Regions from separate parts of the Homo sapiens genome. Here region 2 is linked to region 1. Evidence: fine-mapped expression QTL. Tissue or cell type: whole blood. Region 1 holds a variant in brackets; the other region holds the start of a gene. All regions are shown on one strand. Distances are between the middles of the regions. Region 1 has its middle 15 kb from the start of TFRC. Region 2 holds the start of LINC00885 (long intergenic non-protein coding RNA 885).

What was found. PIP is the estimated chance that this variant, and not a neighbour inherited with it, causes the effect.
Region 2: it holds the start of LINC00885, and the variant in region 1 is the best candidate, but not a certain one, in a credible set for the expression of LINC00885 in whole blood (TOPMed, PIP 0.74).

What each region holds. Positions count from the first base shown.
Region 1 is chr3:196,088,957-196,105,336 of GRCh38, forward strand. No RefSeq gene overlaps it. Among named protein-coding and RNA genes, the nearest start is that of TFRC, 15 kb to the left of the region's middle. RefSeq lists a silencer at 3,485-3,673 and an enhancer at 7,954-8,003. The variant C/G (reference allele first, on the strand shown) is at 4,847.
Region 2 is chr3:196,133,899-196,150,278 of GRCh38, forward strand. LINC00885 (long intergenic non-protein coding RNA 885) reads left to right here and starts at 8,738. Exons shown (of 3, transcript NR_034088.1): 1 at 8,738-9,102; 2 at 10,008-10,479. RefSeq lists a silencer at 523-682 and enhancers at 1,852-2,652, 6,542-6,591, 6,642-6,701.

The DNA of each region.
Region 1 (16,380 bases):
TGGGACTACAGGCGCACCACCACGCCTGGATAATTTTTGTATTTTTATTAGAGATGGGGTTTCACCATGTTGGCCGGGCTGGTCTCGAACTCCTGACCCCATTGATCCACCCGCCTCAGCCTCCCAAAGTGCTGGGATTACAGGCGTGAGACACCACACCCAGTGTTTTCACTATTTTTACTTTTTTAAATTTCTTAAAATAAAATATGTAGAACGAGGGTCTCCCTATGTTGCCCAGGCTGGTCTCAAACTCCTGGGCTCAAGGGATCCTTCTGCCTCGGCCTCCCAAGGTGCTAGGATTACAGGCTTGAGCCACCATGCCCGGCCTGAAGTCTTTTCAAATGCTGTCAAATAGCTGCACACACTCCGGTCAGTGAGGGCAGCACCCTGCCTGTCACACGGCTGGTCTTCACAGCAGCTTCTACAGAAATCACTCTAACCTACCTTTAGCTCTGACCCTAGCTCCTATTTAACATGCCGGATCCATTTTATTTTCCTTGGAATCCTAAGCCTCGGGCAATCACTTTAGGACCAGAGTCATAAAATAAAAATGTGGAGCTCTGCCACTTTGGAAGAGGATGCAACCTAGAAAAAAGGCAGGTGGACTGTCAACTCATAGATTTGAGGTTGATACTATTTTCCATTTTATTTTGCATTTCTTTTTCTCCACCCTCAGTTTCCTGTCCTTATCCTGCTGACTCAATTATTTTTTCTTTCTCCATTGCCAAACGGAAGGTCACCCACGAGAACATGGAATAGGGGCAAGATTCAGATTAATATGGAGGAGTTTGCTCCCATTTTATAGCAAATGGAAAGGTTACTTAGGACAGTGAAAGATAACTAATTTTGTTTTTTTTTTGTTTGTTTGTTTGTTTTCTTTTGAGATGGGGTTGTGCTCTGTCACCCAGGCTGGAGTGCAGTGGCACGATCTCAGCTCACTGCAATCTCCACCTTCCGGGTTCAAGTGATTTTCCTGCCTCAGCTTCCTGAGTAGCTGAGATTACAGGTGCCCACCACCATACCCAGCTAATTTTTGTATTTTTAGTAGAGATGGGGTTTCACCATGTTGGCCAGGCTGGACTCGAACTCCTGACCTCAAGTGATGCACCCACCTTGGCCTTCCAAAGTGTTGGGATTACAGGCGTGAGCCACCATGCCTAGCCAAAGACAATTTTTAAATTGATTACAAGGACATTTATGCCAACCAGTACAGTGGTCTAAGTTGAAGTTTTGAGTAGGATATGAAGTTCTATTTAGTCCCATTCGGAGGCAAAATAGAACTCACTGCATAATAGAGTTTCAAGTTCAGAAGGAACTATATAACTAATGTACTGTCTCTGACCTATAGTAGGTGCTCAAAAAATGTATGTTGAATTAATTCAACAAAATTCCTCTACTTCACCTCATCAGGTGGTTATCTAGTGTCTCCTTTACCTCTCCAATGGGAGCAAATCTATAATTTCCCAAAGCAGAAAGACCTGGGCAGTTTGAACTGTCAGAAAGTTTTTATCTGGGCCAGGTGCGGTGGCTCACGTCTATAATATCAGCACTGTGGGAGGCCAAGGTGGGCAGATAACCTGAGGTCATTCAAGACCAACCTGGCCAACAGGGTGAAACCCCATCTTTACTAAAACTACAAACATTAGCCAGGCATGGTGGCGCACACCTGTAATCCCAGCTACTCAGGAGGCTGAGGCAGGAGAATTGCTTGAACCCAGGAGGCGGATGTTGCAGTGAGCTGAGATCGCACCACTGCACTCCAGCCTGGGCGACAGCGTGAGACTCTGTCTCAAAAGAAAAACAAAAGTTTGATCTACTAAACTAAATTCTCTCTCCCTCTTCTATATATTAATTATTTTATATATATATATATTTTTTTTAAATAGATATGGGGTCTTGCTATGTTGCTCAGGCTGGTCTCAAACTCCTGGGATCAAGCAGTCCTCCTACCTCAGCCTCCCAAAGTGTTGGGATTACAGGTGTGAGCCAACACGCCCATCCTATAAATTAATTATTGTTTGAAGACTGCTCTCCTGTTCACAGCTGTCTTCTCCAGCTAAATATCCAAATCTCTTCTAATGGTTACCACAGGGCGTGATTCCATGTCTCCCCACCCACTGGTCACTTTGTGGTTTTTTTTGTGTGTTTTTTTTTTTATTTTTTTGTTTTGAGATGGAGTTTCGCTTTTGTCGCCCAGGCTGGAGTGCAGTGGCATGATCTCCGCTCACTGCAACCTCCGCCTCCCAGGTTCAAGCGATTCTCCTAACTCAGCCTCCCGAGTAGCTGGGATTACAGGCGCCTTCTACCACGCCGGGCTAATTTTTGTGTTAGTACAGACGGAAGTTTGCTGGTCTCGAACTCTTGACCTCAGGTGACCTGCCCGCCTTGGCCTCCCAAAGTGCTAGGATTACAGGCATGAGCCACCGCGCCAGGCCCCACTGGTCATTTTTGGAAGTATAGTTTGGCCAATCCAGAGGGGGCAGGAACATCATTCCCCTGTTGTAGATGCTGCAGCTTTTGGTGGCCATCTGTCTGCCACCATATTCACTACCTTAATAGCCACTGTCTATTGTTAACTTCTGTTGAGTTTTCAGCAGGGTTCAAGGGAATAGATCAATCTTTGGAGCAGAAAGACCTGGGCCCCAAATCTAGTTTTGCCGTGTACTAGTACCCTCTATGCTCCTTTTATCATGGAGAATGTGATATCCAGGTACTGTTACAGTCTACTATAGCGTATGAAGAGGATCTGTCCCCGCTTATCACCAGTCTAATTCAGCTGGAGGTGGAAAAGAGCCTGATCTATTTGGCTAGGAACATCCTTGCCTTGGAGCTGAATAAAAATAGCCAAGGTTTATTGTACATCTACCAGGTGCTCCATTCTAGCGCCTTTAAACATATGAGCTCATGCAATCCTCAGAACAATTCTTAAAAATAAATTCTTAAAAAAAATTAAAAACTCTTAAAAATAAAGAGGTAATCCCATTTTCAGGTGTGGAAACTAGCTTAATACAGAAGTAAAGTAACTTGCCCCATGTCACATGGCTAATAAATAGTGACAGCAAGAATTCAAGCCTAGGTCATCTAGCTTCTAACCTGGCCCTAAAAAATTCCACTACACTGCCTCCTTACAAACCCAGGCATGACACAGACTGACTGCACCACCCGCACAGCTCTGCAGACACCTCCCCAGGGAAGAATTTCTATTCAAGAGGTACAGGGACCATCTAGGTGGAACCATTTGAGAAGATCTAGTATCTGAGGGATCTATTTTTTTTCACTTCAGATTTAAGTTAATTTCAAAATTTGGATTCATATTCCTATGTGGGGAATCCCAGATATTTCTTTCTTTTCTTTCCTTTTTTTTTTTTTTTTTGAGACGGAGTTTCACTCTTCTTGCCCTGGATGGTGCAATAGCGCCATCTCAGCTCACTGCAACCTCCACCTCCTGAGTTCAAGCAATTCTCCTGCCTCAGCCTCCCAAGTAGCTGGGATTACAGCCATGCGCCACCACGCCCAGCTAATTTTTTTTTTTTTGAGACGGAGTCTCTCTGTGTCACTGAGGCTGGAGTGCAGTGGTGTGATGTCGGCTCAGTGCAACCTCTGACACCAGGGTTCAAGCGATTCTCCTGCCTCAGCCTCCTGAGTAGCTGAGATTACAGGCAAGTGCGACCACACCCGGCTAATTTTTGTATTTTTAGTAAAGACGAGGTTTCACCATGTTGGTCAGGCTGGTCTCGAACTCCTGACCTGATCCACCCGCCTCGGCCTCCCAAAGTGCTGGGATTATAGGCGTGAGCCACCGCGCCTGGCTAGAATCCCAGATACTTCTAAAAATAAGAGTTTGTAGTACAACTGATGCTCCAGAAATCTGGGTACCATTTGACAGAAATGCAGTGCATTCATATTGTCCCTGCAAGCTAGCTCATTTGCTTAAATTTCCAGAATGCGTACCTACCTTTGATAAGGAGAGTTATTGAATTGATAAAATTATCGTATGAATGTATATATATTAAACATTGTTTCTGGGCCGCATGGCAAAACCCTGTCTCTACAAAAAAATACCAAAAAAAAAAAAAAAATGCCAGGCATGGTGGTACACTCCTGAAGTCCCAGCTACTTGGGAGGCCGAGGCGGGAGGATCCCTTGAGCCCAAGAGTTTGAGGCTGCAGTGAACCGTAACCATGCCACTACACTACACTGGGAACAGAGTAAGAGCCTGTCTCAAAAATAAATAAATAAATACTTCAAAAAAAAAAAAACTTTGTTTCCAAAATATAAATTAGTCAGTTTGGTTTTTCTTATTTGCATCTTTATCTTTCTTTCTTTTTTTGTAGAGACAGGACCTTGCTATGTCGACCAGGCTGGTCTTGAACTCCTGGCCTCAGGCTATCCTCCCACCCTGGCCTCCCAAAGTGCTGGGACTGCAAGCATCAGCCACTGTACCCCGCCTCTTATTTGTATCTTCTTTTGACATCTGAGCTTGCAACTCTCACTTATGTCTGAGTTTCCCTTCCTCTATGGCTGGGACCTTAAGCAATAATACTTCTGATAAACTGTGCGCCAGATGGCCAAACATTGCCTAAAAAAAATGACTAAGAAAGAGGCCTTTGAAAAGAACATTGTGAAGTGGGGATGACTGATGATGTAAATAGGAAAAATGAACAAATGTGTGAAGAAAACATTTGCAAACAGACGTCTACATCTAAATCCCAAGTCAGCAAATCTAGTATTCAGGAAAAATACCAAATAGGCAGAAACTTTTTGGTTTCTTCAGCTTTAATATACACAGTAGACAAATTTTCCTTTGGTTTGGAAAATGTTCCTGCCAAAACTTGTATTTCTTATA[C/G]ATGGAAATGTGGTCAAGGAGGCAGCTGTACAGTGGTTACATTTGTGAGAGCTGGAGTGGCTTCCCTTGGTTCATCTCACACAATCCCCTAAGTGGTAGGAAGACCCGTATCCCAGGGCTGGGGTGCCCAGGTGTCAGAGTGCGGTAACGTTCGCTGAGCACCTATGGTGTCCAGGTACTGAGCTGGGAACTTATATTTGTATCATCTTACTTTGGCCCCCAACAATTCTGTGAAACAGGTATCATACCTATTTTATAGATGAATAAGTAGAAGTGTGAAGAATATAAAAGGATTGGCTGAAAGTGGCACAGCTTTTAAATAGCAAGACCCTAACTTCAGATCTCTGTGATTTCTGTTTTTTTTTTTTTTTTTTAAATAAATGTTAAGAGATATAGCAATGGGGATCTCACCATGTTGTCCAGGCTGGTCTCAAACTCCTGGGCTCAAGCAATCCTCCCTCCTTAGCCTCCCAAAGTACTGGGATTACAGGTGTGAGCCACCATGCCTGGCCAGGTTTCTGTATTAAAACCACTTTTTACTATATCTCAGGTATGGAAATATGAAAACACTGTTGTAGCAGGCGGGTAGTTGAAGCTCTGCACTCAGGGTAGGCTGACGTACTGCCAGGCTCTGACCAGGACCTTACAACAATACCCATCCTTGGAAGGTTTGAGTCAACTTTATAGCTGAATTTGATGCCAGGAGCACAAAGCAAAAGATCCCCATATATAAAGACAAGGTTATAAGGTACAGTGTGCCTGGTACAACTATCTTCCAGAATGCTTCCCAGAAGTAACATAGCTGGGCACCCTGGCACATGTTTATACTCTCAGCTACTTGGAGGTGCTGAGGCAGGAGGATCATTTGAGCCCAGGAGTCAGAGGCCAGCCTGAGCAACATGCTACGAAGGGGGGCAGGCTTCTCTGATAAGGTCGAGCCCAAGTAGGCAATGAGAGCAGAGAATTCCAAAGGGAGAGACAGTTCTGGGCCCGTGAGCCAATCCTGCTAGCCAGGTCCCCTCCAACCCCCTATTCCAGGCAGACCACTTCTGTGTCAAGGTCTGAAATCCAGCCTTGACTTTATTTTATTTATGTATTTTTTGAGACAGCTCTGCTGTACAGGCCAGAATGCAGTGACATGACCATAGCTCACTGTAACCTCAAGCGATCCTCCTGCCTCAGCCTCCCAAGTAGCTGGAACTACAGGCATGTGCCATCACACCTGTCAAATTTTAATTTTTTTTTGTAGAGATGGAGTCTCACTGTGTTGCCCCGGCTATTTTTGAACCCCTGAGATCAAGGGATCCTCCAGCCTTGGCCTCCCAAAGTGCTGGGATTACAAGCGTGAGCCACCACGCTGGGCTAATTTTTAATTTTTTTTTGTAGAGACAAAGTCTCACTATATTGCCCAGGCTATTCTTGAACTCCTAAGCTCAAAGGATCTTCCAGCCTCCTCGGCCTCCCAAAGTGCTGGGATTACAGGTGAGAGCCAGCATGCCTGGCTCTAGCCTTGGCTTTATTAAGGTACAGGCAGGTTTTCCTGCAGGTAGTAAGATGAATAAAGGTTAGATTGGTTTTGAGATCCAGATAGAGGCTAGACTCTAGCCTAGCGCTTCTTTTTTTTTTTTTTTTTTTGAGACGGAGTCTTGCCCTGTCTCCCAGGCTGGAGTGCAGTGGCGTGATCTCTGCTCAGTGCAACCTCCGCCTCCTGGGTTCACGCAATTCTCCTGCCCCAGCCTCCCGAGTAGCTGGGATTACAGGCACATGCCTCCACACCCGGCTAATTTTTGCATTTTTAGTAGAGACGGGGTTTCACCATGTTGGACAGGCTGGTCTCGAACTTCTGACCTCATGATCACCTCAGCCTCCCAAAGTGCTAGGATTACAGGCATGAGCCACCACACCCAGCCTAGCCTAGTGCTTCTTAAACATTCATGTGAGCTCCATGCAGTGTCACATCTATAATCCCAGCACTTTGGAGGCCAAGGCAGGAGGATTGCTTGAGCCCAGGAGTCCAAGGCTACTCTGAGCTATGATTGTGCCACTGCAGCTAAGCCTTGACTACAGAGTGAGACCTTGTTTCTTAAAAATATATATATTCATATACATATATTATTTATTTTCATTTATTATTTATTTATTTATTTTTGAGAGAGAAAGAGACGAAGTTTCACTCTTGTTGCCCAGGCTGGAGTGCAGTGGCGCAATCTCAGCTCACTGCAACCTCCACCTCCCGGGTTCCAGTGATTCTCCTGCCTCAGCCTCCTGAGTAGCTGGGACTACAGGCACCCACCACCACGCCCGGCTAATTTTTGTATTTTTTGTAGAGAAGGGGTTTCACCATGTTGGCCAGGCTGATCTCTAACTCCTTACCTCAAGTGATCCACCTACCTCAACCTCCCAAAGTGCTGGGATTACAGGTGTGAGCCACCATACCCAGCCCTTGAAAATATTTTTTTAAAGAAACTTTAATGTGCAGATAAGTCCCATGGAGGGGACGTGTTAAAATGCAGATTCTGATTCAGAAGGTCTGGTGGGGGTCCAAGACGGTGTTTCTAACAAGCTCCTAACTGATACCCAGGCTGCTGCTGGTCTTAGACCAACCCTTGAGTAGACTTTAGAGGAAGAAGTTTTTATTAGCTGTTTCTACAACACTCCCCACAGAAAGGGCACCCTGTGTGGCCAGCTGGCATGAAAGCGGTTTCTGCTTGGCAGCTATTTTTAGGTAGCTGTAATGCATTCTATTTTTTGCATTCTAAGCTTTTCAGTGGACCAGGGCGATCCCTGGGGCTGTCCCAGCTTCAGCAACGGTCCCTAAGACCATTCAGCTACTTTGCAGCCACTGCACAACTGCCAAACAATCCACTAATCCTGATCTTGAAACAATTTTCCCTCCTGAGAAGACACCAGACCTCAGCAGGAAGACTTGGCCTGCACAGCAGTTCTCTTACCCCACACGAATTAATAAATAGGCCTCATGAATCGGGATTTTGTGCCCTTGGGTAGCGAATTACCTGATGACTCTGGTGAACTGACGAAACTGAGTTTGTGAAACTGTGAGCCGGAAGAACAGTCTACAGCTGTCGTGGACTCCCCTGAACCCCTGGGAAGACGCAGCTCAACAGCCAGTCCACACGAACCCTGCTCTGAAACCTCTCCTGCAGACTGGGCCTGGGCTAGAGAAGAACAGGAGTTTTCTTTTCTCCTTTTTTTTGAGACGGAGTTTTGCTCTTGTTGCCCAGGCTGGAGTGCAGTGGCATGATCGTGGCTCACTGCAACCTCTGCCTCCTGGGTTCAAGTGATTCTCCTGCCTCAGCCTCTGGAGTAGCTGGGATTACAGGCGTGCACCACCACGCCCAACTAATTTTTGTAATTTTAGTAGAGATGGGGTTTCACCGTTTTGGTCAGGCTGGTCTCAAACTCCTGACTTCGAGTGATCCACCCGCCTCGGCCTCCCAAAGTGCTGGGATTACAGAGATGAGCCACCGCGCCAAGCTGTGAATTGATTTTTTAGTGAAACTTCAGGGAGCCAAGGACTTTGGCCCCCACAGTACCATCTGGATTATTGGGAACAGGTGCAAAATATATAGGGCCAGCGAAAACTCTCAAAGGAATGATTGACATTATAAATTTAGAGAGGAAGGACTGCCTTCCTTTCTGTGACAACAGCACTTTAATGTTCCAAAACAGGATGTCCTTGGATTTGGTTTTAATGCTTATGTATATAAGGTTAGCTATTGCCAGGAGACTGATACAATTAATCAGAGTCCATCTCTCCCTTCCAGGCACACCTTCACTTCGCTGCAGTTTCTCATGGCCATAAATCCATTAGAGCAAGAAACAGCAAGATTAGTAGAGGGCCATAAATTTAGATTCTGGGCCATTTTACCTGATAAGTCTTTTTGTTCTTTTCTCTTTTTTTGAGATAGGGTCTCACTCTGTCACCCAGGCTGGAGTGCAGTGGAGTGGCCATGGCTCACCGCAGCCTCTACATCCCAGGCTCCAGCCATCCTACCTCAGCTTGCAGCTGGAACTACAAGAGCACGTCCCCACCCCTGGCTAGTTGTTTTGTAATTTTTGTAGAGACAGGATCTTTCTATGTTGCTAGGGCTGGTCTCAAACTCCTGGGCTCCAGTGATCCACCCACCTTGGCCTCCCAAAGTGCTGGGGTTTCAGGCGTGAATCATCATGCCCAGCCAGAAACCAGTCTTAAAAGACTGTATACTATAATGATTCTATTTATATGACATTCTGGAAAAGGTGAAATTATAGAGACCTAAAATACATCAGTGGTTGCCAGAGGCTTGGAGAATGAAGTATAGGCTGAATAGGTAAACCATATATGATATTTTAGGGCAGCGAAACTCTTCTGTATGGTACATGAGACTGCATTTTTCAAAACCCATAGAACTGGCTGGGTGTGGTGGCTCACGCCTGTAATCCCAGCACTTTGCGAGGCCAAGGCAGCGGATCACTTGAGGTCAGGAGTTTGAGACCAGCCTGGCCAACATGGTGAAACCCCGTCTCTACTGAAAATACAAAAAATAGCTGGGCATGGTGGTGGGTACCTGTAATCCCAGCTACTCAGTAGGCTGAGGCAGGAGAATCACTTGAACCCAGGAGGCAGAAGTTGCAGTGAGCCAAGATGGCACTTCTGCACTCCAGCCTGGGCGACACAGTGAGACATCATCTCAAAAAAAAAAAAAAAAAAAAAAAAAAAAACTTTAGCTGGCTGAGCGGCACGCGCCTGTAGTCCCAGCTACTCAGGAAGGTGAAGCAGGAGGATCCCTTGAATCCAGGAGTTCATGAGCTATGATCATCCCACAGCACTCCAGCCTCCGTGACAGAGCAAAACCCTGTCACTAAAACAAAACAAAACAAACAAACAAAAACCCATAGAGCACAAATTTCTCTACAGCACAAATTTCAACCTTAATATATGCAAATGTTAAAGCGGGAGTGGGAGGGTTCCCAGGATGGAATGCAAACTGTTATAAAGAACCTCACCATGCTACAAACATGACCTAACATCCAAGGGGAAGGAAGGGAAGTGCTGGGTGTTGAAGGGGATGGAAGGGAAGTGCTGGGCATTGAAGGGGATGGAAGGGAAGTGCTGGGCGTTGAAGGGGATGGAAGGGAAGTGCTGGGCGTTGAAGGGGAGGGAAGGGAAGTGCTGGGCGTTGAAGGGGAGGGAAGGGAAGTGCTGGGTGTTGAAGGGGAGGGAAGGGAAGTGCTGGGTGTTGAAGGGGAGGGAAGGGAAGTGCTGGGTGTTGAAGGGGAGGGAAGGGAAGTGCTGGGTATTGAAGGTGAGGGAAGGGAAGTGCTGGGCGTTGAAGGGGAGGGAAGGGAAGTGCTGGGCGTTGAAGGGGAGGGAAGGGAAGTGCTGGGCGTTGAAGGGGATGGAAGGGAAGTGCTGGGTGTTGAAGGGGAGGGAAGGGAAGTGCTGGGCATTGAAGGGGAGGGAAGGGAAGTGCTGGGTATTGAAGGGGAGGGAAGGGAAGTGCTGGGTATTGAAGGGGAGGGAAGGGAAGTGCTGGGTATTGAAGGGGAGGGAAAGGAAGGGAAATGCTGGGTATTGAAGGGGAGGGAAAGGAAGTGCTGGGCATTGAAGGGGATGGAAGGGAAGTGCTGGGTATTGAAGAGGATGGAAGGGAAGTGCTGGGTATTGAAGGGGAGGGAAGGGAAGTGCTGGGTATTGAAGGGGAGGGAAGGGAAGTGCTGGGTATTGAAGGGGAGGGAAGGGAAGTGCTGGGCATTGAAGGGGATGGAAGGGAATTGCTGGGCGTTGAAGGGGATGGAAGGGAAGTACTGGGCGTTGAAGGGGAGGGAAAGGAAGTGCTGGGCATTGAAGGGGAGGGAAGGGAAGTACTGGGTATTGAAGGGGAGGGAAGGGAAGTGCTGGGCATTGAAGGGGATGGAAGGGAAGTGCTGGGCATTGAAGGGGATGGAAAGGAAGTGCTGGGCATTGAAGGGGATGGAAGGGAATTGCTGAGCGTTGAAGGGGATGGAAGGGAAGTGCTGGGCGTTGAAGGGGAGGGAAGGGAAGTGCTGGGCGTTGAAGGGGAGGGAAGGGAAGTGCTGGGCGTTGAAGGGGAGGGAAGGGAAGTGTTGGGCGTTGAAGGGGATGGAAGGGAAGTGCTGGGCGTTGAAGGGGGTGGAAGGGAAGTGCTGGGCGTTGGGGGTGGAAGGGACGTGCTGGGCGTTGAAGGGGATGGAAGGGAAGTGCTGGGCGTTGAAGGGGATGGAAGGGAAGTGCTGGGCGTTGAAGGGGATGGAAGGGAAGTGCTGGGCGTTGAAGGGGATGGAAGGGAAGTGCTGGGTGTTGAAGGGGATGGAAGGGAAGTTCTGGATATTGAAAGAGAAGGAAGGGAAGTGCTGGGTATTGAAGGGGATGGAAGGGAAGCGCTGGTCTAAGTGACTTTGGAAATAAGTGAAGACTATAAGACTAAAAATAAAAGGAACTGTACATAAGCACTGAACTCTAACAGCAAAATTGTTTCCCATGGGGATATGGGTTAACAACTGTGAAACCACTCTACATTGTGCTGGGATTGAATGGATGGCAAGCCAGGGAGCCAGGTAGCTCACCGTTGTCTACACACACACACACACACACACACACACACACACAATTCTCTCTTGCTTATATTAATGTGTATATAAATATACATACATTAACAACTGTGTGTGTGTATATATATACACACATATAAATATATATGCTAATAATCATGTATGTGTTTATGTGTGTGTATGTATTATACAAGAATCATGTATGTGTGTTACATACATGATAGTTAATGTATATATATTTATATGTGTGCACCAGTTAGTACACACATATAAAAACTACAAAGCAAGTCGGCCAGACATGGTGGTTTATGCCTGTATTCCCAGCACTTTGGGAGACCAAGGCAGGAGGATTGCTTGAGCCTATTAGTTCGAGACCAGCTTGGGTAACTTGACAAAACCCTGTGTCTACAAAAAATACAAAAATTAGCCAGGTGTGGTGGCAGGTGCCTGTAATCCCAGCTCCCGAGGAGGCTGAGGTAGGAGGATCACCTGAGCCCGGAAGGTCAAGGCTGCAGTGAGCTATGATCGCACCACTGCACTCCATCCTCGGTGACAGAGTGAGACCCTCTCTAAAAAAAAAAAAAAAAGTCTGAAAAAGAAAACACAACAAGTATAGAGAAAGTCAAGAAAACTGAAGTTGTCTTTTTGAAAAGACCAACAAAACTGACAAAACAGTCTGGCGCTCACGCCTGTAATCCCAGCACTTTGGGAGGCTGGGGTGGGAGGATCACTTGAGGCCAGGAATTAGACACCAGCCTGGGCAACAGAGCAAGACTCCTGACCCCCAAGTCTCTACATGAATTTTTTTGTTTGTTTGTTTGTTTGAGATGGAGTCTCACTCTGTCGCCCAGGCTGGAGTGCCCAGGCTGGAGTGCAGTGGCGCGATCTCGGCTCACTGCAACCTCTGCCTCCCGGGTTCCCGCCATTCTCCTGCCTCAGCCTCCTGAGTAGCTGGGACTACAGGCACCCGCCACCGCGCCCGGCTAATTTTTTGTGTGTTTTTTAGTAGAGATGGAGTTTCACCATGTTAGCCAGGATGGTCTTGATCTCCTGACCTCGTGATCCGCCCACCTCGGCCTCCCAAAGTGCTGGGATTACAGGCGTGAGCCACCGCGCCCGGCCGAAAATTTTTAAAAATTAGGCATAGTGGAAACCTGTAGTCCTAGCTACTTGGGAGGCTGAAGAAGGATTGCTTGAGCCGAGGAGTGACCAATGATCAAGCCACTGCACTCCAGCCTGAGTGGCAGAGTGACACCCTGTCTCGATTTTTTAAAAAACTGACAAATCTTTTGCTAAACTGACCATTTTAAAAAGAGAAAAAGTGGCCAGGAGGGTGGCTCACGCCTGTAATCCCAGCACTTTGGGAGGCCAAGGCAGGCGGATCACGAGGTTAGGACATCGAGACCATCCTGGCCAACATGGTGAAAACCCATCTCTACTAAAAATAGAAAAAAAATTAGCTGGACGTGGTGGTTGGCACCTGTAGTCCCAGCTACTCGGGAGGCTGAGCCAGGACAATCACTTGAACCCAGGAGGTGGAGGTTGCAGTGAGCTGAGATCGTGCCACTCCACTCCAGCCTAGCGACAGAGCAAGACTCTCTCTCAAAAAAAGAAAAAAAGTTCAATATATGAAAATCAGCAATTAAAGAGGACATCACTATATACCTTACAGAAAAAAAAATAAATAAAAGGTGGCCAGGTACAGTAGCTCATGCCTGTAGTCCCAGCACTTTGGGAGGCTGAGGCAGGCAGATTGCTTGAGCCCAGGAGATCTGTTGTCCAGGAGATCTGAGATCAGCCTGGACAACATGACAAAACCCCATCTCTACAAAAAATACAAAAATTAGGCAGGTGTGGTGGCACAGGCCTGTAGTCCCAGCTACTCAGGGAGGCAGAGGCAAGAGGATGGCTTGAGCCCTGGAGGTTGAGGCTGCAGTGAACCCTGACGGTGCCCTGCACTGCAGCCTGGGTGACAAAGTGAGATCCTGTCTCAAAAAATAAATAAATAAAAATAGATTATAAAAGAATACCATGAATAACCATATGCCAACAAATTAGATAACTTATATAAAATAAAATGGGCACATTCCTTGAAAGACACAAATTTCTGAAACAGACAGAAGAAGAAGGAGAATATCTAAATAGACCTATAGACCTACAGCAAGTAAAGAGATTGAATTCATACTGACAGTGGCTCACACCTATAATCCCAGCACTTTTCAAGGCCGAGGCAGGAGGAGCACTTGAGCCTATGAGTTCAAGTCCAGCCTAGACAATGTAGCAAGACACTGCCTCTAATACAAAAATTAACACTAAAACAACAAAAACACTCAACAAACTAAAAGGAGCTACCTCAATCCAATAAAGGGCACATACAAAAAAACCTACAGCTAACAAAGTGAAAGACTTTCTCCCTACCAAAACAAAGATGTCCACTCTCACCTGTTCAACACTGTGAAGGAGGTTCTAGCCAAAGCAATTAGACAAGAAAAAGAAACAAACAGGCTGGGTGCGGTGGCTCATGCCTGTAATCCCAGCACTTTGGGAGGCCGAGGCGGGTGGATCAACAAGTCAGGAGTTCGAGACCAGCCTGGCCAACAAAGTGATACCCTGTCTCTACTAAAAATGCAAAAAATTAGGGGGTCGTGGTGGTGGGTGCCTCTAATTCCAGCTACCAAGGAGGCTGAGGCAGGAGAATCCCTTGAACCCAGGAGGCAGAGGCTGCAGTGAGCTGAGATCGTGCCATTGCACTGCAGCCTGGGCAACACGAATGAAACTCCATCTCAGAAAAAAATAAAAGAAAAAGAAACAAAAGGTATTCAGATTGGAAAGGAAGAATTGAAACTATCTCTGCTTATAAATGATATGATTTTATATAGAGAGAATCCTAATGAATCCAACAAAAAGCTACTAGTATTTACATGTATATTTCCCAGCTCTGTCCACTTAGAGGCCCCAGAAACAATATCCAGGTAGCAATGAGAACACACCCAGTGTCCAGATCTCGGTTTCTAATACCATTCCCCAGAGCAGAGGACCCTGGTTTCTCATACCATTCCCCAGAACAGAGGACCCTGGTTTCTCATACCATTCCCCAGTAGAGAGGACACTGCTTTCTAATACCATTCCCCAGAACAGAGGACCCTGCTTTCTAATACCATTCCCCAGTACAGAGGACCCTGCTTTCTAATACCATTCCCCAGTAGAGAGGACCCTGGTTTCTCATACCATTCGCCAGTGCAGAGGACCCTGCTTTCTAATACGATTCCCCAGAACAGAGGACCCTGGTTTCTCATACCATTCGCCAGTGCGGAGGACCCTGCTTTCTAATACCATTCCCCAGTAGAGAGGACCCTCGTTTCTAATACCATTCCCCATTGCAAAGGAACCAGCCTCCCTGGAGAAATGCCTGATTTCTTTTTTTATTTTTTGAGATGGGGTCTCGCTCGTCATCAGGCTGCAGTGCAGTGGCGTGATCTCGGCTTACCTCAACCTCCGCCTCCTGGGTTCCAGCGATTCTCCTGCCTCAGCCTCCCGAGTAGCTGGGATTACAGGCGCCCACCACCACACCCAGCTAATTTTTGTATTTTTGGTAGAGACAGGGTTTCACCATGTTGGCCAGGCTGGTTCAATCTCTTGACCTCATGATCTTCCCGCCTCGGCCTCCCAAAGTGCTAGGATTACAGGTGTGAGCCACACTGCCCGGCCCTGATGGTTTTGTTGTTTTTTTTTTTTTTTTTTTTTTTTTTTTAGTAAATAAACTTGTACCAGAAGAAATGGCTGATTCTAAGCCTGGGTCAGGAAATATCCAATATGAACCTGGAGCATCTTCTAGTGCCAGAAAGTACGAAAGAGCTCAAAGAACAAAATGGTGGGGATATGTCTATGGACACAGAAGCCAACTACAGAAGCTCCCAATGGCCAAAGCTGGAGCAATTTATACTACAGAATGAAGAGCCTAATACAGATTATAACCCAAAGTATAAAAAATAAATATCCATGAGACCCCACTGCCATAAATAAGTGATTGCCTAAACAAATAAATGAGGACGAATAGGCAACTCTCTTGTACAGTGGAACTCTAGATGATATACTGACATTTATCATGGAGGAGGTGGGGCATAACTCCCTACCGCTGAGGCAGGAGTTGCATAGAGTGACTTCCTACTAAAGAGTATAGTACGGAAAGCGGAGGAAAGGCCGGGCACGGTGGCTCACGCCTATAATCCCAGCACTTTGGGAGGCCAAGGCGGGTGGATCACGAGGTTAGGAGTTCAAGACAAGCCTGGCCAACATGGTGAAACCCCATCTCTACTAAAAATACAGAAAATTAGCCAGGCATGGTGGCAGGTGCCTGCAATCCCAGCTACTCAGGAGGCTGAGGCAGGAGAATCGCTTGAACCCAGGAGGCAGAGGTTGCCGTGAGCCGAGATTGCGCCATTGCACTCCAGCCCGGGCAATAACGCGAGACTCCATCTCAAACAAACAAACAAACTAAAAAGAAAATGGCACTTTATCTCTGTGGTTTTCCTCCCCAAAACCCCAAACCCCAAACCCCAGTCTAATCATGAGAAAAACATCAGACAAATCCCAGTTGAAGGACATTCTACAACATGTATGACCAGTACTCCTTAAAACCGTCAAGTTCATTTAAAAAAAAGAAGGGCTGGACGCGGTGGCTCACACCTGTAATCCCAGCACTTTAGGAGGCCGAGGTGGGCGGATCACCTGAGGTCAGGAGTTCGAGACCAGCCTGGCCAACATGGTGAAACCCCGTCTCTACTAGAAATACAAAAATTATCCGGGTGTGGTGGCTCGAACCTGTAGTCTCAGCTACTTGGGGGGTTGAGGCGGTAGGATTGTTTGAGCCCAGGAGGCAGGGGTTGCAGTGAGCTGACATTGTGCCACTGTGTTCCAACCTGGGTGGACAGAGTGAGACCCTGTGTGAGAAACTTACATTT
Region 2 (16,380 bases), 45 kb after region 1:
GACAAGGTCTCACTGTGTTGCCAAGGTTGGTCTCGAACTCCTGGGCTCAAGGGATCCACCCACCTCAGCCTCTCAGAGTGCTGGGATTACGGGCATGAGCCACAGTGCCTGGCCCATTTTTATCTATTTATTTATTTATTTTTATTATTTATTTATTTATTTATTGAGACAGACTTTTGCTCTTGTCGCCCAGGCTGGAGTGCAATGGCGCCGACCTCAGCTCACTGCAACCTCCACCTCCTGGGTTCATGGATTCTCCTGCCTCAGCCTCCGGAGTAGTTGGGATTACAGGCGTGCGCCCCCACGCCCAGCTAATTTTTATATTTTTAGTAGAGGCAGGGTTTTACCATATTGGTCAGGCTGGTCTCAAACTCCTGACCTCAGGAGATCCACCTGCCTCGGCCTCCCAAAGTGCTGGGATTACAGGCATGAGCCACTGTGCCCGGCCATTTTTTAATGTTTTTATAGAGTCAGGGTCTCACTATGTTGCCCAAGCTGGTCTCAAACTTCTGGGCTCAAGCGATCCTCCTGCCTTGGCCTCCCGAAGTGTTGGGATTAGAGGCGTGAGCCACCGCCCCCAGCCAAGTATGTCTATAACTGGGGAAGCCTAAACCATGAGCCACTGACTGTCTGTTCCCGGCAAAGTCCAGACGCTGAAGCTGTGAAAAGTCGGCTGGAATGAGCTCGGAGGCCCCTCCAGCATGGATCCTCTCGTTCCGGGTTCCCTGTGGGGTCAGGGCTACGGCCAAGATCTCTCACTCCAGATCCTCTGACTGTGTCCCAGTGCCCTGGTCACTGCTCTTCTGGGTTTGAAGGGTCTTGAGTGTTTTCATGGCCTCTTGTCAATAGAAGTATATTTTCTGCCCTTTCCCAGACTGTCCCAGGAGAGACTTCTCTGCCCTCTTCTCCTTCTGAAACAGTCCTGTGCGTCCCTACTCTGCTCAGCTTCATCCCAATAACTCAGGAAGCAGGAAACACTCAGGAAGGGCTTACTCAGCACTAAGCCCTGGGAAATAGAGGCGAGCAAGACAAGGTCCCCATCCTTATGGAACTTACTCGTAACGAAGAGAATTTCAAACGGTGAAAAATGTATGCGAAGCACCGGGGAGATAGGACAGTGAGTGGCTGTGCAGAGATACTCTAAATACATGGCCCAGCTCATCCTCTCTGAGCAGGTGACATTGGAATCAAGAATTTCATTTGCTGAGCACGGTGGCCCACACCTGTAATCCCAGCACTTTGGGAGGCTGAGGTGGGAGGATCACTTGAGCCCAGGAGTTCCAGACGAGCCTGGGCAACATGGAGAAACCTTGTCTGTACAAAAGATACAAAAATTAGGCCGGGCACAGTGGCTCATGCCTGTAATCCCAGCACTTTGTGAGGCCAAGGTGGGTGAATCACCTGAACTCAGGAGTTTGAGACCAGCCTGGCCAACATGGTGAAACCCCGTCTCTACTAAAAATACAAACATTAGTCGGGTGTGGTGGTGGGTGCCTGTAATCCCAGCTACTCGGGAGGCTGAGGCGGGAAAATCGCTTGAATCCAGGAGTCGGAGGTTGCAGTGAGCCGAGATCGTGCCACTGCACTCCAGCCTGGGCAAAGAGTGAGACCCCATCTAAAAAAAAAAAAAAATTAGCCGGGCGTGGTAGTGTGCACCTGTACTCCCAGCTACTCCTGAGGCTGAGGTGGGAGGACCCCCTGAGCCCAGGAGGTTGAGGCTGCAGTGAGCTGTGATCACACCACTGCACTCCAACCTGGGTAACAGTGAGACTGTCTCAAATAAAAAGAAAGGATATTTCATGATACTTCTCTGTTGATGTGTGTCCCTCCCTTTGTCTGATGGGGTCTGTGTCTTAGTACACATATCTCAGAGGTCGCATAGTGCCTGGTACATAGACAGAGCTTGCAGATGTGAATTGAATGCATGGATGGACAGTGAGACCGTGGAGGGGATGGTCCAACCATCCTCTGCACTGTTCAGACCCATGAGGAGCTCTGAGTCCAGGTCCAGGGAGGCAGATTCCTCCCCAGAACCCCTCGACTTATCACCGAAGAGTGCATAGGAGACTGGAGAGGTTGAAGAGCTTGCCCCACTGCACAGCCAGCTGGGCGGCATAGCTCCCTGGTGAGCTCAGCACAGCAGTGGGAAACAGAGGTGAAGGGCAGAGCCTTGAACTTGGCTGTGTTCTCTACCCACTGTGTGACCTCAGGCAACTCACCCAGCTCTCCAGCTTTGAGAGTTGGGTAACTTGCCCGACTCTCATTGGGCACCTACCTCATTGAGTTCTGTAAGGATTAAATCGAGATAAAATATGTAAAGAACTCAGCAGGCAGGTGGGCTGAGAAAAAGGGAGCAGCCAGCATGTCTGTTTCTGCAGTGCCTCAGGCACCAGGGCCTGCCAGTGGCCACAGAAATGGAGTTGACCTCACCGGCTCCCTTCCAGTCTCCCAGGCTGTGGGGCAGTGACAACCCCAAGCAGGAGGCTGGAGGCACAGACTTCCAAGAAGGAGGAGACGAGGCATGCTGGTACATTTTCCACCTTACTCCAACCCTTCACCCACATCCTGACTTCTTCAAAAGAATTATTGTATAAACAATATAAAGGCATTAAAAAAAACTGCAAAGGAAAAACGAACCACCTATGATCTCAGCATTCGAGCCCAACAAGGTTGTTTTCTTCCTGTCTAGTTCTTCCAGCTTGTCCAGGCATGTACATATTTTATTTCGCTGTAGTCAGAGTCATTATTTATTTTTTGCTTGTGTAATATTTTTATCATAAATGTTCATTCACAATCCTGTAGTCTTCATAAGTAGAATTTTTTTTTTCCCCCTTCAGGACAGAGTGTTGCTCTCGTCGCCCAGGCTGGAGGGCAATGGCGCAATCTCGGCTCACTGCCACCTCCGCCTCCCGGGTTCAAGGGATTCTCCTGCCTCAGCCTCCCAGTAGCTGGAACTACAGGCGTGCACCACCCCATGCCCATCTAATTTTTGTATTTTTAGTACAGACAGGGTTTCGCCATATTGGCCAGGCTGGTCTCAGACTCCTGGCCTCAGGTGATCCACCTGCCTCGGCTTTCCAAAGTGCTGGATGACAGGCGTGAGCCACTGCGCCTGGCCCATAAGTAGAATTTTTAATGGCAACCTGATATGCCACCAAGCTGATGCGCCATCAGTTATTTCTTCATTATTCTCTTGCTGGATATTTTCTTCTTTTTGCTGTTGAAGGACAACATATTTATACATAATTTTAATTTATTTACTTACTTATTTTTGAGACGGAGTCTCAGTGTATTGCCCAGGCTGATGTGCAGTGGAGTGATCTCGGCTCACTGCAACCTCCACCTCCTGGGTTCAAGCGATTCTCATGCTTCAGCCTCCTGAGTAGCTGGGACCACAGGCATGTGCCTTCACACCCAGCTAATTTTTGTATTTTTACCAGATAAACGGTTTCACCATGTTGGTCAGGCTGGTCTCGAACTCCTGGCCTCAAGCGATCCACCTGTGTTGGCCTCCCAAAGTGCTGGGATTATAGGCGTGAGCCACCGCACCCGGCCCCAAATTCTTTATGGCTACATTGCTCCCCAGAGTGGAATAATTTACACTTTTCTAGCAGCATGTGAGTACCTTCCAACCAACTCGGCACGGGCTTTTGTGCTGTTGATATGGTTGCATCTTGTCAGTTTCATCTGGTACAGTGTGGTGTTATTCACTGTTGAACTTCCTCTCGAATAAAATTTAGTTCATATTTTTTGCTCATTATCAGTTTTTGTTTTTGTTTGAGACAGGGTCTGGTTCTGTTGCCAGGATGGAGTGCTACGGTGCGATCTCAGCTCACCGCAGCCTTGATCTCTCAGGCTCAAGTAATCCTCCTACCTTAGCCTTCTGGGTAACTAGGACTACAGGCATGTGTCACCAGGCCTAGGTAATTTAAAAAAAAAATGTGGCCAGGCATGGTGGCTCACGCCTGTAATCCCAGCACTTTGGGAGGCTGAGGCGGGCAGATCATAAGGTCAGGAGATCGAGACCATCCTGGCCAACATGGTGAAAACCTGTTTCTACTAAAAATACAAAAATTAGCTGAGCATGGTGGCACATGCCTGTAGTCCCAGCTACTTGGGAGGCTGAGGCAGGAGAATTGCTTGAACCCGGGAGGCAGAGGTTGTAGTGAGCCAAGATCACACCACTGCACTCCAGCCTGGGCAACAAGAGCAAAACTCCGTCCCCAAAAAAAAAAAAAAATGTTTAGTAGAGACGAGGTCTCATTATGTTGCCCAGTCTGGCCTCAAACTCCTGAGCTCAAGTTGATCCTCCCACTTCAGCCTCCCAAAGTGCTGGGATTACAGGTCTGAGCTACCATACCTGGCCTAGCTTATCAGTCTTATTAGCTATTTATGAACCTTGTCTTTTGTCATTATTTGCTGCAAGCTCTTCCTCCAAATCTTTTTCTTTTTCAAAATTATATTTTTAAAAAGTTATAAAAGCAATACATGTTTATGGTAGAAAATCTGAAAAATAGAGAAAAAGTCATAAAATATATGCCACCACTTAAAATTAACCTTTATTATCCTGTTTGTCTGTCTGTTTTTGAGACAGGGTCTGGCACCGTCCCCCAAGCTGGAGTGTTGTGAGTGTGGTTCCCAGCAGCCTTGAGCTCCTGGGCTCAACGATCCTCTGGCATGAGCCGCTGTGCCTGGTGTTATTATCCTGTTTCAAAACCAGCTGTGAAAAGATAATTTGACCCTATTGGGAAATGAAGATATGGACTGGTTGTTGGATGATACTGAGGAATTTTTGTTAGTTTTGTTGAGGGCGTAATAGCAGGGTAGATGTATGTTTTCAAAATCCCTTATCAGTTTACATGCTCACTGGAATATTTACAGGAAAATTCATGTGACGTCTTGGCTTTGCTTTTAAAAACTCCAGCACACACACAAAAATAAATAAATGATTGGGGAAAATTAGATAAAACCAAATTGGCAGTATTTGTTGATACTAGATGATGGATATATGAGTATTCATTTCATTGTTCTCTCTACTTTTACGTACATTTGAAGTTTTCTGTGACTTACGTTTAAAAGTTATCTTCTCAGGAGGACTCCCAGGCTTAGCTTGCCTAAAATTCCAATCCCATCTCCTTGGCTGACTTTCATACTCCTCACTCCTGCTTTGTTTTTCCTCCTTAGCATTTCATCACGACCTGCCACGCTAAACGCGTTCTTAGGTATCTGGTCATCTTGGCTTCTTACCTCTCCCCAACTGGAATGTGAACTCCCTCAGGAAGGAATTTTACTGTTTTCTTCCCGCCCTTGCTATCAACAGTGCCTGAGTATTCAAATCATTATCACATGAAAAACAAACTCACTGTTAACATTTTTCTTCGGTTTTTTGTTTTTTTCTGAGACAGGCTCTCACTCTGTCACCCAGGCTGGAGTACAATGGCATGATCTCGGCTCACTGCAGCCTCAACCTCACAGGCTCAAGAGATCCTCCCACCTCAGCCTCCTGAATAGCTGGGATTGTAAGCACGCATCGCAATATTCGGCTAATTGTTATTTTCTGTAAAGACAGGGTGTCACTCTGTTGCCCAGGCAGGAGTGCAGTGGTGCCATCACGACTCACTGCAGCCTCAACCTCCGAGGCTCAAGCGATCCTCCCACCCCAGCCTCCCACCTCAGACTGTAGTCATGAGCCACCATGCCCAGCCAATAAAAACTTTAAAAGACCTTTCTAAACCATCAAGGTTGGAGGCATTAAGGATTTTTGTTGTTGTTACTGCTCATTTCTTTTTTCTTTTTTCTTTTTTTTTGAGACAGAGTCTCACCCTGCCCCCCAGGCTGGAATACAGTAGAGCGATCTCAGCTCACTGCAACCTCTGCCTCCTGGGTTCAAGTGATTCTCCCGCCTCAGCCTCCCAAGTAGCTGGGATTACAGGTGCCCACCACCATCCCCGGCTAATTTTTGTATTTTTAGTAGAGACGGGGTTTCACCATGTTTGCCAGGCTGGTCTCGAACTCCTGACGTCAAGTGATCCACCTACCTCGGCCTCCCAAAGTGCTGGGTTTACAGTCCTGAGCCACGGCGCCCGACCATCATTTCTTAACGAGCATACATTAAAATTTCCAGGCAGTCAAACTTAGTGACTGCTTTACAAACATGAAATATCACACCAATATTTAAAGAAATGAGCAAAACCTGTTTTTAAAAATTTACACACACCAAAAACGACATGGAAAACCTAGGCCCACTTTTAGGATCGCCCTCTAGACAAAACAAATAAGGAAAGGCTAATCTTTGAGGAAAATATCCTATAAAATATACCTGAGGGGAGAAAGCCCCTATCATGAAGAAATGGTTAGAGCTATTCTGTTTCCCTTGTGGTACTTTTATCACTCTTTAAGAGAATCCATCACAGGCCTTCAATCTCTAGCCAGCCTAGACACAGATGTGCGTGGGCCGACCCAGCAAGGGGCAGGAGGAAAACCCCTCTGCTTCCTGTCCCCGGCTTCTCCCACTTACTCCCCCGCCCCCCACCTCTGCCCGTCTAATGGTTCCCTGGGCCGACTCGGTCGCCCTGCCAGCCTGTCCTCCTTCACTCAGGCACACACTGTTTCCACGCCCGGGAGCCTGGCTCACTTGCAGAGCTATAAAAACAGACATCCACCAGGCACGGTGGCTCACGCCTATAATCCCAGCACTTTGGGAGGCCAAGATGGGTGGATCACCTGAGGTTAGGGGTTCGAGACCAGCCTGGCCAACATGGTGAAACCCCATTTCTACTAAAAATACAAAAAACTAGCCTGGCATCATGTCATGCGTCTGTAATCCCAGCTACTTGGGAGACTGAGGCAGGGGAATCGCTTGAACCCGGGAGGCAGAGGTTGCAGTGAACCGAGATCACACCACTGCACTCCAGCCTGGGCAACAAGAGCAAAACTCCATCTCAAAAAAAAAAAAACAAAACAAAAACACTCAGACATCAGGCTGGCCGCCGTGGCTCATGCCTACAATCCCAGCACTTTGGGAGGCCGAGGCAGGGAGGATCCCTTAAGCCCAGGAGTTCAAGATCAGCCTGGGCAACACGGCGAGGCCCCGTCTCTACTAAAAATACAACAAAATTAGCTAGGTGCAGTGGTGCTTGTGGTGGTCTCAGCTACTTGGGAGGCTGAGGTGGGAGGATCACTTGAGCCCAGAAGGCAGACAGAGGTTGCAGCACTGCACTCCAGCCTCGGTGACAGAGTGTGACTCCAAGTCACAGGAAAACCCAACAAAACACAGACGCCGCCCCCACCTGCTTTGCCCGACTCTGCAGAGTCCCACCCGGATGATCTGGGGGAGGGAAGGAGTTTGTCTTTTTCGAAGCCCTCTGTGGTTTTCGGATGAGCGGATTTAGGGACAGTCTGCACATGTCTTTCACTCCTGCTATGGACCCCAGAACCCACCACAGTGCCTGGCTAAATTGCACGTGCTTAAATAAATATGGAACAAATGAACCAACTGACCTCTTTTGATGTTCCCAGCCATTCTGTGAGGCAGAGGATCAAATGGGTATTATTGTCCCCATTTGACAGAGGCCCAGAGAGGTGACAGGAATTCCCCAAGGTCACAGATGGAGGGGCCCGAGGCTGCCTCCCACTACCAGGCTGATTTCCAGAGGCTTAAGGTGGGGGCTGAGTTTAAGGAGGGGAAAAAGAAAAACACATCCCCTTACCTAGTGGGTAGAGAGGAGTAGGGGCAAGGGAGAGAAAAGAGGAAACGAAAGAAGAGGGGAAAGAGGAAAGAAGAAGGGGAAGGTTAGAGATGCCTAAAAGCATGGAACTGGAGGAAAGACATCAAAATAACAAAGAGCAAGACTAGCCGCGTGGTGGCTCACGCCCGTAATCCCAGCACTTTGGGAGGCCAAGGTGGGCAGATCATTTAAGGTCATGAGTTCAAGACCAGCCTAGCCAACATGGTGAAACCCTGTTTCTACTAACAATACAAAAAAATTAGCTGGGCGTGGTGGTACATGCCTGTTATCCCAGCTACTCGGGAGAGTGAGGCAGGAGATTCACTTGACCCTGGGAGGCAGAGTTTGCAGTGAGCCGAGATCATGCCACTGTACTCCAGCCTGGGTGACAGAGTGAGAGTCCTTCGAAAGAGAGAGAGAGAGAAAGAGAGAGAGAGAGGAAAGAAGGAAGGAAGGAAAGAAAAGAGAGAGAGAGAGGGAGGGAGGGAAGGGAGGGAAATGAGGGAAGCTAAGAGGGGGTTGGGCTGCAAATCCTATCTCTGGGCAGCGGGTCTGGGCCCCTCGTCCCTGCAGCAGGTCTGGGCCCCTCGTCCCTGCAGCGGGTCTGGGCCCCTCGTCCCTGCAGCGGGTCTGGGCCCCTCGTCCCTGCAGCAGGTCTGGGCCACTCTTCCCTGAGTTTGATGCTTGGTTTGGAGTCAGGGCTCTGAGCCCAGAGTCCCTGTGGAAAACACATCCCTCCACTGACTATGGCCTCTGTCCCACAACCTCCCCCCTCCCCAGGCCTGTGTGTGTTTAGACAGCTTGCCCTGCATTTTTAGAACAATTTTTAACTTGTAGGCTGTACCTGCGGAACCAGAATGTCTGGCCAAGACCTGTTACCTAACAGCCTCAGACCATTTGGGTGCCAACAGCAACTGCAGCTCTGGCCCAAGCCAGGTGTGGGCTGACCTAGCCAGGGAGCGGGGAAGTGAAAGGAATGGGTCCCTTCCCACTCAGAGGGCGGAGCCCCCACTTCTGGTGAGAGAAAGCTGAGCAGAATGGATCTAATCTGATTCCTCCACCCAGAAGCCCTTAAAATGCAGCTTTGTTTTAAGCCTTCTTGAAGATTTGGGCTAGATCTAGAAAAGAACCTCACCACGGAGGATGTGCAAAGTACAACACGTGACCCCGGAGACGGAAGCTCTTCTCTACCTCCGTAAAGATGATCTCTGATGAACAGACATGATCATGCCTGGAGAACAGGGATGGACAGTCCCGCTTCTGAAAGACCCTGTCTGGCTGATGATTCATGGTGCGCCGGGCAGACCCCAGGCCAAGAGACCCCACCCACAGTACCTGAGTGCTCAGCTGGGAACCAGACCAGACCTCAAAACAGGTTTGCAGAATTAAGATGAGGAGCTGAGCTCAACACAGCCTCCGCAGCTCCCCAGGGCGGGCCTGAGCCGAGGGAGAGCCCATGGCCATCAGGGTGCTGGAATGCATGTCACACTGCATTACGTGCATTACGATCCACGCTGCAATGACAGCCCAGAGCGTGGAGAACCCAGAGAGGGTGGGGAGATGGAATCCCGGCGAGCCAGCGCTGGCAGGGACCACGGGGAGCAGCTGGTCCAGCCGCCGGTTTTCCAAGAGAGAAGACTAAGAAGTGAGTCACTTGCCCACAGCCACAGAGAGAAGGAGGGCAACGAGGCCGGCAGGTCAGCAGCGAGCAGTTAGTTCAAGGCCTTGAGGGCTTCCACTAACTTTGAAGGGCGAGGATGGGCGGAGCTCTGGAGGCCGCCGGGGTAGGTTCGAGGGGAGTGTTCAAGAAGCCTCTTTTTTTTTTTTTTTTTTTTTTTTTTTTTTTTTTTTGAGACGGAGTCTTGCTCTGTCACCCAGGCTGGAGTGCTGTGGCGTGATATCGGCTCACTGCAACCCCCACCTCCCAGGTTCAAGAAATTCTCTTGCATCAGCCTCCGGAGTAGCTGGGATTACAGACACCCGCCACCACACCCGGCTAATTGTTGTATTTTTAGTAGAGACGGGGTTTCACCATGTTGGATAGGCTGGTCTCAAACTCTTGACCTCAGGTGATCCACCCGCCTTGGCCTCCCAAAGTGTTGGGATTACAGGCCTGAGCCACCACAACAAGCCAAGAAGCCCTTTTTGTAGAGTTCTAATCCTGGGTCTGCGGCTGAGCCATGGTTGTGTTCACAAAGCAGAGCAATCAACCGGGCATAGGGATGGACCTCCTGGGGCCAAAATGGCGGCTGACATCTCCACCCTGACCTTTCTTCTCAGGTTCCCAAGGTTACCACCCAACCCTGCCAACTTTCGCACCCCGCAAGGAGCAAGACCCCGCCCGCTCACCACCTGCCTGTGCAGCCAACGGGCCTCGCTGAGCTGCCCTGGGCCGCTCCCTCCATTCACACAGTTGGCCCTCCCTCTCCCTGCCTCCCTTCGCCTACCCCACGAACTACTTCATCCCTCTGGGCCGGCACTGTAGAAGCCCCATTGTTCACATCGACCTCCCAATTATCTCCTCTTTCCCTCTCCCTCTGCTCCTGCCCAGACCAGCCCCCCAGCATTGACCTGGATGCCTGCCACAGCCTCCTCCCTGGTCTCCGGCCTCCCACCTCTGCTCCTCGGTCTCCTCTACCCAGCCAGTAACTGCAGAGAGCACTAAAGCACAGTCCTGGCATCTCACCCCCTTAACCCTGGCCACGGCTTCCCAGTGCCTCCAAGATAAAGCACCAACACCTGAGGACAGCAGGTGAGTCCTCCCGGAGCTAGCTCTCCCCCACCTTCCTGTCACCCTCTGCCCCAGGCTCTGCCCGTGCTGCTGCCCCCTGAACCCACACTTCCGTCTTTTGCTTTCCCTTTCCCTGGGATGCTCTTATACCCCCTGGCCCCCTGGGATATCTTCTCATCTGTTAAGTCTCAACCCAGAGCTGCTTCCTCTGGGAAACCCTCATTGGTCTCCTCGGGCAGAGGCTGGTGTTTTTCTCTCATGCGTCCTCGGGCAGAGGCTGGTGTTTTTCTCTCATGCGTCCTCGGGCAGAGGCTGGTGTTTTTCTCTCATATGCCTGCAACAGCCTGGGATTTCCTCTCTCAGCGCTTTTTTTTTTTTTAATCAAAAAAATTTCGACGGGGAGACAGGATCTCACTATGTTACCCAGGCTGGTTGTGAACTCCTAGCCTCAGGTGATCCTCCTGCCTCGGCCTCCCAAAGTGCTGGGACGACAGGCATGAGCCACCGTGTCTGGCCCTCTCAGCACTCGCTACCGAGGGTGTTCTAATACTTCATTCGCCTGCTGTGGGAGGCAGCCTCTAAGATGACGCTCAGTGATCCCTGCCTCTTGGTATTTCCTGTGTAAAACCGTCCCCTTGAATGTGGGCTGGGCTAATTGACTCACTTTTTAATTTATTTTTCAGAGACAGTTTTAAATTTATTTTTCATTCTATTGCCCAGGCTGGAGCACAGTGGCATAATCATAGCTCACTGCAGCCTCAAACTCCCGGGCTCAAGTGATTGCCCACCTTAGCCTCCCTAGTAGCCAGGAATCCAGGCGCACACCACCACGCCTGGCTCTGATTGACAGACGCACACCACCACACCTGGCTCTGATTGACAGGCACACACCACCACACCTGGCTCTGATTGACAGGCACACACCACCACACCTGGCTCTGATTGACAGGCGCACACCACCACGCCTGGCTCTGATTGACAGGCACACACCACCACAGCTGGCTCTGATTGACAGGCACACACCACCACGCCTGGCTCTGACTGACAGGCGCACACCACCACGCCTGGCTCTGACTGACAGGCGCACACCACCACGCCTGGCTCTGACTGACAGGCGCACACCACCACGCCTGGCTCTGACTGACAGGCGCACACCACCACGCCTGGCTCTGATTGACAGGCACACACCACCACAGCTGGCTCTGATTGACAGGCACACACCACCACGCCTGGCTCTGACTGACAGGCGCACACCACCACGCCTGGCTCTGATTGATTCACTTCAAACCAGGAGAATCTGTAACTGCCCATGTGCTCTTCTTGCCCAATGCCCAGTTAGAGCTGATTTATTACAACAGGGGAATTGCAATAGAGAAAGAGTTTAATACACGTAGAGCCAGCGAAATGGGAGACCAGAGTTTTATTATTACTCAAATCAGCCTGCCCCAAAATTCAGAGGCGAAGGTCTCTTAAGGAGAGTTTGGTGGGCAGGGAGCTATGGGACGTGTGCTGCTGATCAGCTGGGGGGGCAATCACGGGGGTGTGGAAATTGGCCCTTGTGCTCTGAGGCAGCCTCTGGGTAGTGGCCACAGAGGAGCTGCTGGTTTGGGTGGGGCCTTCCGGTCATCAGTAACCTGAAACCCTGAAAAGAGATCTCAAAAGGCCAATCTTAGGTCTTACAGTAGTGATGTTATTTACAGGAGTCATTGGGGAAGTTGCAAATCTTGTGACTTCTCATGGGAATCATCTCACAGCACCCACATATTCGCGGAATTCATGCCCCTTTCCTCCTCTTAACCCAGTGGCCTTTGGAATAGTGGCTGGGAATCATCTCACGGCACCCACATCTTCGTGGAATTCATGCCCCTGTCATCCCCCTAACCCGGTGGCCTTTCATTAGTTTTACAAAGGCAATTTAGTTTTGGAAAGGGCTATTATCATTTAAACTATAAACTACATTTCTCCCAAACTTAGCTTGGCCCACACCTGTGGATGACCAAGGGCACCAGCCTGAACAACACGGTGAAGCCCCTCATCTACTAATAATACAAAAATTACCCGGGCGCTGTGGCGTGCCCCTGTAGTCCCAGCTACTCAGGGGGCTGAGGCAGGAGAATGGCATGAACCCGGGAGGCGGAGCTGGCAGTGAGCCGAGATCACACCACCGCACTCCAGCCTGGGCGACAGAGCCAGACTCCGTCTCAAAAAAAAAAAACAAAAAACAAGCAGTGAATGTGGATCTAAACAAAATCACAACGTAACTCAATCAGGAGGAAGAGAAGGGCAGAGAGTTTCTGTGTGGTGGGGACAGGGAGAACAAAAATGAGCTACATCCTCATTGTTCACAGTGAAAACTCAATAGATTTATCTCAGGCTGGGCACAGTGGCTCACACCTGTAATCCCAGCACTTCGGGAGGTTGAGGCCGGCTGACCACTGGAGTCCAGGAGTTCGAGACCAGCCTGGGCAACATAGGAAGACCCCGTCTCTACAAATAATTTTAAAAATTAGCCAGGTGTGGTGGTGCATGCCCGCGGTCCCAGCTACTCAGAAGGCTGAGGTAGGAGGATACCTGAGCCCCTGGAGGTCGAGGCTGCAGTGAGCTAAGATCACACCACTGCACTCCAGCCTGGGCGACAGAGAGAGACCTGTCTGAAAAAAAAAAAAAAGAATCATCTGAAAAAATTGACAGTGGTTGAAAATCATTGACATGAGGCCAACTAATTAACAGAAAAAAGGCATAAAACTAATTTACATGCACATAGGGAGAGTCAGGGTGCCTGCGCCCCAGTGGGGTTCAGAAGCTCATACAGCATCCTGGCAGCACAGTTTATGGGAGGCAGGAAAAGAGGGGGATAAAGGATTACTAGGGAAAGTAAATGGATCTAGGAACAGAGATCAGTTTACATACTATTTTGTGGAAAGTTCTGTTCAAGTTTGGTTACATTCCTGGCTTTACAAATAATTGCTCCTTGTGGGTCTGGAACTTGACCAATTAAAAAACTTCAACTTCTTTGGGGAAAGGTCAGAGAGACCTCAAGGCTTCTTCGGTCCCATATGTCAAAGCACCATATTCTGGGGTATTGGTTTCTGAGTTCCAGCACCTGTAAGGAGTAGAAAAAGGAGTCTGAGTTGCAAAGGATGGGGGTTTTCACACCAAGTAAACTCATAAAACTATGTTCAAGTATAACTCTATTACAAATTAAAATACAAATCTACCACGGCTGGGCACAGTGGCTCACGCCTGTAATCCCAACACTTCGGGAGGCTGAGGCGGGCAGATCACCTGAGGTCAGGAGTTTGAGACCAGCCTGACCAACATGGAGAAACCCCGTCTCTACTAAAGATAGAAAAATTAGCCAGGCACGGTGGTGTGCACCTGTAATCCCAGCTACTCGGGAGGCTGAGGCAGAGGAATTGCTCGAACCCAGGAGGTGGAGGTTGAAGTGAGCCGAGATCGCACCACTGCACTCCAGCCTGGGTGACAGAGCGAGACTCTGTCTCAAAAAAAAAAAAAAATCTACCACAATGTCTACATATGGAAGGTGCTCCAAAAGCGTGAACCATTAGAATTCCTATGGAATGACGTTTTCATCAAACAGCTTTTGCTATACTTACAGGTGGATGTGATTGCAAACAACAAAGCCTGAACTCAGATGGGGAAAGAATCAGTGGGGATCATATTGTGTCATGTCCAAGAGGTTCACAGATCAAATTCAGGCATGGCTGGATCCAGGCGTTCACAGCGTGCCAACAGAGATCTTGCTGTCTCCATTTCTTGGCTCCATTCACTGTGTTGACTTTGCTCTCAAACAGGCTCCTCTCAGACCTTAGCACACTGGCCTCCAGCGGTTGCAGGATTCTATACTGCTGGCTTAGTGCTCCCAACAGAAAAAGAGTGTCTCTACTTGGTAGTTGCAACCAAATGCCTCAGATAGACACTGACATGGTTTGGCTCTGGGTCCCCACCCAAATCTCCAGTTGAGTCCTAATCCTCAGTGTTGGAGGTGGGGCCTGGTGGGAGGTGGTTGGATCATGGGGTGGATTTCTCATGAATGGTTTGGCACCATCCTCTCGGTGCTGTTCTCCATAGTGAGTTCTCGAGAGATCTGGCCGTTTGAAAGTGTGTGGCCCCACCCCCTCGCTCTCTCTCTTGCTTCTGCTCCTGCCGTGTGAAGTGCCTGCTCCCGCTTCGCCTTCTGCCATGATTGGAAGTTTCCTGAGGCCTCCCCAAAAGCCGGGAAGAGGCCAGCGTCATGCTTCCTATGCAGCCTGCAGAACTGTGAGCCAATTAAACTTCTTCTTTTTTTTTTTTTTGAAACGGAGTTTCAAAAAAACAACGGAGCTCTTGTTGCCCAGGCTGGAGTGCAATAGTGCAATGGTTGGGATTACAGGCATGCACCAACACGCCTGGCTAATTTTTGAATTTTTAGTAGAGTACAGACGAGGTTTCACCATGTTGGTCAGGCTGGTCTCGAACTCCCAACCTCAGGTGATCTGCCTGCCCCAGCCTCCCAAAGTGTTGGGATTACAGGCGTGAGCCACCACATCTGGCCAATTAAAATGATTTCTTCTTTTCTTTATAAATTACACCGTCTCAGGGTTTTTTTTGTTTTGTTTTTTGTTTTTTGTTTTTAGACGGAGTCTCACTCTGTCTCCCAGGCTGGAGTGCAGTGATGTGATCTCAGCTCACTGCAACCTCCGCCTCCTGGATTCAAGCGATTCTCCTGCCTCGGCCTCCCAAGTAGCTGGGACCACAGTCACACACCACCACGCCTGGCTAATTCTGTATTTTTAATAGAGACAGGGTCTCACCATGTTGGCCAGGATGGTCTCGAACTCCTGACCTCAGGTGATCCGCCTGCCTCAGCCTCCCAAAGTGCTGGGATTACAGGCGTGAGCCACCGCACTCAGCCAGTCTCAGGTATCTTTTTACACCAGTGTGAGAACAGACTAATACAGACACTCATTGATCTGGCTTGGGTCACATACCCACCCTTGAACAGATTGCCGTGACCAAGGGAATAGAGCACTTGGATTGGCTAAATCCCAGTCCTAAGCCGACCGCTGGAACCACGGACAAAGTGGGGGCAGAGTGGTCTCACAAAGAAAAATATGGATGCTTTTATTAGAAAGAGAGAAGACGCTGCAAAACCAACAGGTCTCCCCTGTGTCTGAAGACTGAGACTAGGCCAGGCACGATGACTCACACCTGTAATCCCAGCACTTCGGGGGGCGGAGGCAGGCGAATCACTTGAGGTCAGGAGTTCAAGACCAGCCTGGCCAACATGGCGAAACCCCATCTATACTAAAAATACACAAATTAGACAGATGTGCTTGTTTGAACCCAGGGAGTGAAGGTTGCAGTTAGCTGAGAGTGCGCCACTGCACTCTAGCCTGGGCAACAGAGTAAGACTCTGTCTCAAAAAAAAAAAAAAAAAAAAAGACTGAGACTGCTGTTTGCCTTCATCAGCACAGAAGCCGCTAGTTAGGAACCATTCTCCTAGCACACCCACTCCCTGTGCTTCACAAAAGCAGGTCAATGTTTACAGAAGTCCCCTCTTCCCACGTCTTCTCATCTTCAGGGGAAACTGTTGCGAGGAACAGAGGACTGGAGAGACCAATACGGGAAACAGGAGGATGTTTATTTAAGGTGCACCAGCTCAGAGGATTCGTATCCAAAAAGCTGAGCATTGAACAAAGTCAGGGTTTAGCTTATATAGGCCAGCGCAAAGGCTGTCAATCACACAGTGACAGCTTCTGTCATCTACAGCATAACTAGTGACTTGGCACAACCTGTGCCCTTGCATAGCGGGTAACCTTGCAGCTGAGGCAAAAGAAAACAGGAACTTACAAATCTGACTAAGTACAAGCATTGGCAAACATAGTCAGAATTATTAGTTCAGAGAAGGAGAGACAGTCA